2 linked regions of the Homo sapiens genome follow. The protein of the gene in region 2 purifies or fractionates together with the protein of the main gene of each other region. This does not show direct contact. Each region holds a gene or a part of one and is shown on either strand. Other genes may lie near its edges.

The links. The genes of interacting proteins can lie anywhere in the genome.
Region 1: the proteins of ABCA3 (region 2) and ABCC2 fractionate together in Homo sapiens (co-fractionation; one large-scale study listed by BioGRID). This does not show direct contact.

The regions. Positions count from the first base shown.
Region 1 is NC_000010.11:99,827,640-99,831,139, forward strand, and holds part of ABCC2 (ATP-binding cassette sub-family C member 2), read left to right. Parts: intron 1-2,667; coding exon 2,668-2,794; intron 2,795-3,076; coding exon 3,077-3,212; intron 3,213-3,500. UniProt on the Homo sapiens protein: ATP-dependent transporter of the ATP-binding cassette (ABC) family that binds and hydrolyzes ATP to enable active transport of various substrates including many drugs, toxicants and endogenous compound across cell membranes.
Region 2 is NC_000016.10:2,278,555-2,281,728, reverse strand, and holds part of ABCA3 (phospholipid-transporting ATPase ABCA3), read left to right. Parts: intron 1-219; coding exon 220-348; intron 349-507; coding exon 508-702; intron 703-2,598; coding exon 2,599-2,786; intron 2,787-3,174. UniProt on the Homo sapiens protein: Catalyzes the ATP-dependent transport of phospholipids such as phosphatidylcholine and phosphoglycerol from the cytoplasm into the lumen side of lamellar bodies, in turn participates in the lamellar bodies biogenesis and homeostasis of pulmonary surfactant.

The DNA.
Region 1 (3,500 bases), on a different chromosome or scaffold from region 2:
TCTTTTAGATCTAAAGTTCCTTGTTCTGGAAACCATGGGCAAAATTGTTCTATTATTTGAAATAGCTTGATTAGATTTTTTTGTAGATACTTTAACTCCCCCTCTTTTTAAAAGAATTTTAATAAAGCTGAGATAAGAGGCATATTTACTTTTAATTTTACTTTTAGTTTGCCCCATTATTACCCTAGCTTCTTCCGAGCTCACAAGCTTACCGTACGGCTGACTGTATATGTACTCGGGATCTCTCGTCGACTTGTGCTCAATGACCACGCTCGAGCGTACCTTCACCCTAGAGAAAAGCCTCCACGTTGGGCACCAGATGAAGGGGTGGGTTGCCCCTCCACACCTGCCTGGAATGGAGGGTGAAGTTCCCAAGGAAAGAACAGTGTCTAATGCTAGAGTTCTCTGAGTTATTGCTCAGTCAACCACATCACCATGGTTACCGTAAGAAAATTGGGCAGTTTTCCCATACTAATGGTAAACATTTTTTTCTGATTAGCCTGGATCTGAGTTTCTGGATTCTGTTATAAACCACTTCTCCTTTGAAGAATCCTGTCTTTAATGTACAAAGAACAGTTTGCAAAACATCCCCGTAAGCCCTTTTTCTGGTGAACACTGAGAGAACATTTCTGAGCAGTTTTGTAAGCTCCAGAGCCTAGGATGCTGCTGTGTTGGCCCTGGGATCTGGGACTTGGTGGAATGAAGAGAAGGGCAGGAGGGCAAGGTGAGCTGCACTGAGATTGGTTCTGTGTATGAGTTTCCTAATTAGCTGCCTTAACAACACATCACAAACTGAATGGCCACACATTTCTGGAGGCTAGAAGGGCAAAATCAAGGTGTCAGCAGGATTAGTTCTTTCTTAAGGTGTTAGGCAATAATCTGTTCAAGGCCTCTCGCCTAGTTTCCGGTGGTTTGGTGATCTTTGTTGTTGCTGTTTGTTGTGGTTGTTCTTCCTATATGTTTGTTTCATTTCCTGAACTAATTCTGTTAAGTCTGTATTCTTTGTCATTGTCATGTGTGACCACTGAAGTCTGTTTGGTTGGCTTAGTGGTCAGCTAGTGATTAGACAGATACTCCCTTAATTGCTTTGAAACAATAAGTGTCTCAGCCTTTGCTGAGAGGTTCTGTGTGTGTGTTGTGGGTGGTGGGGAGCATGTCTTCAGCACTCCAGCAATTTACATCTCTGCCTTAGCCTTCACTTCCTGCTTATACAGAGCCACATAGTCAGCCGGAAGTGAAAGATTAGAGCCCTCTTCCATCTTTCCTGGACATGTGCACAGCTCTGCATGTGTAGGTGGCATTCTAGATTGCTGGGAATATATCAGAGAGATCAGAGACCCTGTGAGCATCTTATTCCCCAGCTTTTCCTTTTAAGTTTTTGGTCAGCTTCTTATTTGCCCCAAGTGTTATCACCACCTCAGGCAGCTGCTGTGATGTTAAATAATTGCTGCTGGTTTTTTGAGCTAGCTCAGTGTTAGGTCAAATAGGCCCTATAAATGGGGGTTTTCAGAGAATTCCAGATAGGTGAGATAATGTCAGTTCTCCAGGGATGGGGTTTTTGGGAGCATTCTGAACCCACTCTGCCCCCTCCAGTGGCTGCTAGGCTGCTGGTTTTCATGGCTGCTATGATTGTATGGCTGTTAGTTTTCTAGGTTATAGCAGCCAAGGAGAGGGGGGACAGAAATAGGGTAAGTTAAACTGCCACAAAACTTACTGTTCTTACTAAGTTTCAGCTCTTCAAAAACACAAATGCTCCTGGGATTGTTGCAAGCCTTTGGTTAATTTCAGAGCTCTGAAAAAGTTGACTTTGACCATTTTTAATCATTATTCTAATTGCTTTTATGGAGGAGTAGATATCTGGAGGTTCCTATTCTACCATCCCCACTGATGCCCACACTGTGTCTTATATTTTATTTTATTTTATTTTCCGGGTATGTCTTTTAAGTGATTTAAATTAATATAAGTTTGTTAAATTATTTGAATTTCAAGATGAGCATTTTCTTTTCTGTTTTGAGAGAGTCTCACTCTGTTGCCCAGGCTGGAGTACATTGGCACAATCATGGCTCACCTTCAACCTCCTGTGTTCAAGTGATCCTCTCACCTCAGCCTCCCAAGTAGCTGGGACCACAGGCATGCACCATCACACCCTGCTAATTTTTAAATTTTTGTAGACATAGAGTTTGCCTATGTTGCCCAAGGTGGTCTCAAACTCCTGGGCTGAAGTGATCCTCCCACCTTGGCCTCCCAAAGGGCTGGGATTACAGGTGTGAGCCACCACGCCTGGCCAAGATGAGCATTTTCAATTTACAATCACTTCTTTAGTCAATTCTGAGAATGTGACTCTTCTATTTGTCTACCATAATCCTTAAAAGCTCTTTCCTCCTCCAAAGGAACCTGGGCATTTCTAGGAATTTTCTTCTCCATTTTGACCATTTTCTCTTCCAGTGGAATATTAATTCATCTCTCCTTTATCCTGATATTTCTTAATAACAAGATGTACTAATAACTATGTATGGAGTATTTATGGAGTAAAGTATTCCATGCTGTATGTACATCTGGGATCCCTTGCTGAAACCAGCAAGATCAGAGGAGGCTTCTCTCTCCTTGTTCATAGGACTGACAGGGATCTATGCAGCTCTTTCCCTAACCTCTACTGTGTCTCCCTAGTCCATGATGGCAGTGAAGAAGAAGACGATGACTATGGGCTGATATCCAGTGTGGAAGAGATCCCCGAAGATGCAGCCTCCATAACCATGAGAAGAGAGAACAGCTTTCGTCGAACACTTAGCCGCAGGTTGGCTATCTATTCAGCTGGCAGCCCTCGTCAGCTCTATATTTCCACTTGATCTTTTTCTTTTTCTTCCTGGGCTTTTCCTGTGAGGGTTAACACCATGGACACTCCAAGCTCTTCCTTTGTTTCTTTGTTGTGGGGATGGGGAAAGATCGGGGTTGTGTCAGTTTCCCCTGGTCATCTGCCCTGAAATGCGCTTTGATGCCAGCTGAGTGACTGTGACATCTGCTTGCAAGAAGACCCTTGGGAATTGCCTGCATGCTCAGGGAAGCTTCCCTCTCTCAGTTCTAGGTCCAATGGCAGGCATCTGAAGTCCCTGAGAAACTCCTTGAAAACTCGGAATGTGAATAGCCTGAAGGAAGACGAAGAACTAGTGAAAGGACAAAAACTAATTAAGAAGGAATTCATAGAAACTGGAAAGGTGAACACCACACAGAAAAGTAGCATTTGAGGTGTTATAAGGTTTAGAACCCAAAATTTTTAACGTTCAGTGAAAATTGAACGCATACTTACAGGAGCAATATGTCCTCTGTCCTTTGCAAATCTTCAGACTCATTATTAACCTGTTAGCAGAGGCTGTGGGCTTTCTACCAAGTCATATTTCCATAAAGAATGCTATGTTTCCTGTGAATGTCCTCATCCTACACTTCATGAGTGTTTGATTCCATTCTGATGTGTGGAGGAACAGGAAAACTCAGACCTAGAGCAC
Region 2 (3,174 bases):
AGATAGTTTATGTCTCCTGGATGCTAGTTTAGCCCCGTAAGACCACTGTGTCTTCTAGTAAAAGGTCTGAGTCGCACCTGTGGGGCCTGAGATTGGGACGAGAAGCCTTGAAGGCCTTAGTCCCACCAGACCTCCCACATCCACCCCCGCCCCTCCCTTCTCCACGGAAGCCGCCCTGCGGCTGGGTTCACGCATGCGGTCTTTGTCCTGGTCAATCAGACAGAATTATACACCCGGATGCCTGTGCTTCCTGAGGACCAAGATGTAGCGGACGAGAGGACCCGCATCCTGGCCCCCAGTCCGGACTCCCTGCTCCACACACCTCTGATTATCAAGGAGCTCTCCAAGGTACCCTTGCAATTTGGGGTGGAGTCCTTCCTGCCAGCTGACTACCTGGCTGTCCCCAGGGTCCGACCCCATCCCTGGAAGCTTTCGGCGCTGAGGCTCAGACTGCTCTGCTTTGCGTCCAGGCCTCCGCATTCCGTGTTTTCTGTTGGGTGCCTGCAGGTGTACGAGCAGCGGGTGCCCCTCCTGGCCGTGGACAGGCTCTCCCTCGCGGTGCAGAAAGGGGAGTGCTTCGGCCTGCTGGGCTTCAATGGAGCCGGGAAGACCACGACTTTCAAAATGCTGACCGGGGAGGAGAGCCTCACTTCTGGGGATGCCTTTGTCGGGGGTCACAGAATCAGCTCTGATGTCGGAAAGGTGGGTGCAGCCAGGGAGGCTCTGAAGGGGTGAGACAGGCATGGCTGGAGGGGGCACCCTGGAGGCAGGGACAGAGGGATGCTGTCCCCAAACAGCTGCTGCATCTGTGGCTTGAAATGGGCCCAGCACATGCCTCTGGACAGCGAGACAAGGTAATGAGCTAAAGCTAAGCTTCGCCAGAACTAGCAGGTGATGGGAGGGGAGAGAGATGGGTGCCAACATCCGTGAGCCCAGAGAGGCGCATTCAGCACTGACAGCCACCTCTGTGCAGAGGCCATTCTGTGTCCAGGCAGCTCAGGTGTGGGGTTAGAGGCCTTGCTGAGTGAAGGGATGGAAGGCCCTGGGCCCGCCCAGCTTTCCCATGTTGAGCTGAGCCCCACCAGCTCCCCCGCAGAAGGACCAGAGGCAGCCCTCCTGCACCTCTGCCCGGGGCCTGCATGGGAATTCAAGTGTGCCAAGCAGAGCAGGGGAAATGGTAAGCAGGGCCTGGGGCTGAGAAGTGGCCGCGGAGTCCTCTCCTGAGCTCACACCAGGGGTGCCTGGACAGCAGAGGCCCTGGGCCAGAGCACATGCAGGCCCTCTCGGGAGGAAAGCCTCATCCTAGGCTGCAGACTCCCCCATAGAGGGTTCCAGGGCTTACAGGCAATGCACAGCAAACAAACAGAGGAGATGGTACCATGGCTGGAAGCAATAGACACAGGCCCCATGGGGGGACAAGCACATAGGCGTTAGATCTGCATCATCAGGCCAGATTATAAAAGATTATAAACTCACTGTGTCTACAGAAATAAATTATGCAATTGAAAATCTATGCAGGGGAGAGAAAACCGTATGTGATCTAGCAATGGAGGAGAGGGTGAGAAGTCCCCAGTACATGTAATCTGAGTTCCAGAAGGAAGAGAGAGAGAGAGTGGCAGGGGGTAGTAGCCAAAAAGGTAGTGGCTAAGACTTTCCCCAAACTGATTAAAAACAGATTCTGGGCTGGGAGCGTGGCTCACGCCTATAATCCCAGCTTTGGAAGGCCAAGGCAGGCAGATCACTTGAGGTCTAGAGTTCGAGACCAGCCTGGCCAACATGGCAAAATGCTGTCTCTACCAAAGAAAAATACAAAAATTAGCAGGGCATGGTGGCAGGTGCCTATAATCCTAGCTACTCGGGAGCCTGAGGCATGAGAATCACTTGAGCCTGGGAGGCAGAGGTTGTAGTGAGCCGAGATCATGCCACTGCGCTCTACCAGTGTAAGGGAGACAGAGTAAGACTCTGTCTCAAAAAAAAAAAAAAAAATTCTGGAAGCTTGAGAACCCCAAAGAAGGAAGGTAAAGAAAAAGAAATCCAGTCTCTGGAATCCACAGAACCCAGGCACTCCTGCCCCCGACCAGCTGCTGAAGGTAGCTAAGCAGATGGCAGCAGGCACGTCTTAATTCAGCTGGACGTGGTCACTTGTGCAGAGAACAGCTGCTGCACCATCTGACCAAGCAGTACTCACCCCAAACGTGGTGCCCACAAATCTTTCTTCTTAGAGGGAGAAGAAAGAGTCCTAGCACATCAGATGTCCCAGGTGTGAATGAGTGGGTAGCCAGCTCTGAGTCTGCTTCTACGTAAAGGCCATTCTTGCACCACCTAACCCCATGGCTGCCTGTCCTGGACCAGGCTCTGAGAGCAGCTCTGGAAGCCTCCCTGCACCAGGCACATCCTTCCTGTGTCCCTGTTCCAAGAGCTTCCACTGTGGGCAGCCACCACGGCCTGTGCATAGCTCCAGCGCCCCCGTGTACACACACTGGCAGGAACCACAGACAGGCGCAGTGGTGGGCACCTCAAGGGTAGTCCCCGTGGTCCTCTGGAGGAAGGAGGCTTCCCTCCAACCCGCCTCCCTCCCCGGCTATGCTCCGACCCCAGGTGCGGCAGCGGATCGGCTACTGCCCGCAGTTTGATGCCTTGCTGGACCACATGACAGGCCGGGAGATGCTGGTCATGTACGCTCGGCTCCGGGGCATCCCTGAGCGCCACATCGGGGCCTGCGTGGAGAACACTCTGCGGGGCCTGCTGCTGGAGCCACATGCCAACAAGCTGGTCAGGACGTACAGGTGCACCTCCCGAGCCCTGGCCCTTCCCAGAGTGGAGTCAGAATCAAGGTCCCCATAGCATAGAGCTGGGAGTGACCGCTCAGGTCAGCAGCCAGAGCTCCTGCTTGTGGCTCCAGGATGGAGCTGGGATGTGGTGGTGTGACCCAGGTAGCTCCACGTAGGAAAGGGACTGCCCTGACAGTGCCTGCCACCTAGGGACAAAGCCAGCAGTGAGAGATGTCAGGGTCGGCAGGTCCCCTTTAGGTGCAGGCAGATGTCTTCCCATGTAGGTGCGTGCACCGGGCCCCTGGGAACAGCCTTCTCTGGGGCCTCCAGCCCTATGCGGTGGGCTTTCCAGGTGCACACACAGCTCCTTCCTCTTCACTAGGGCTGTTCTGCAATTGCTGGG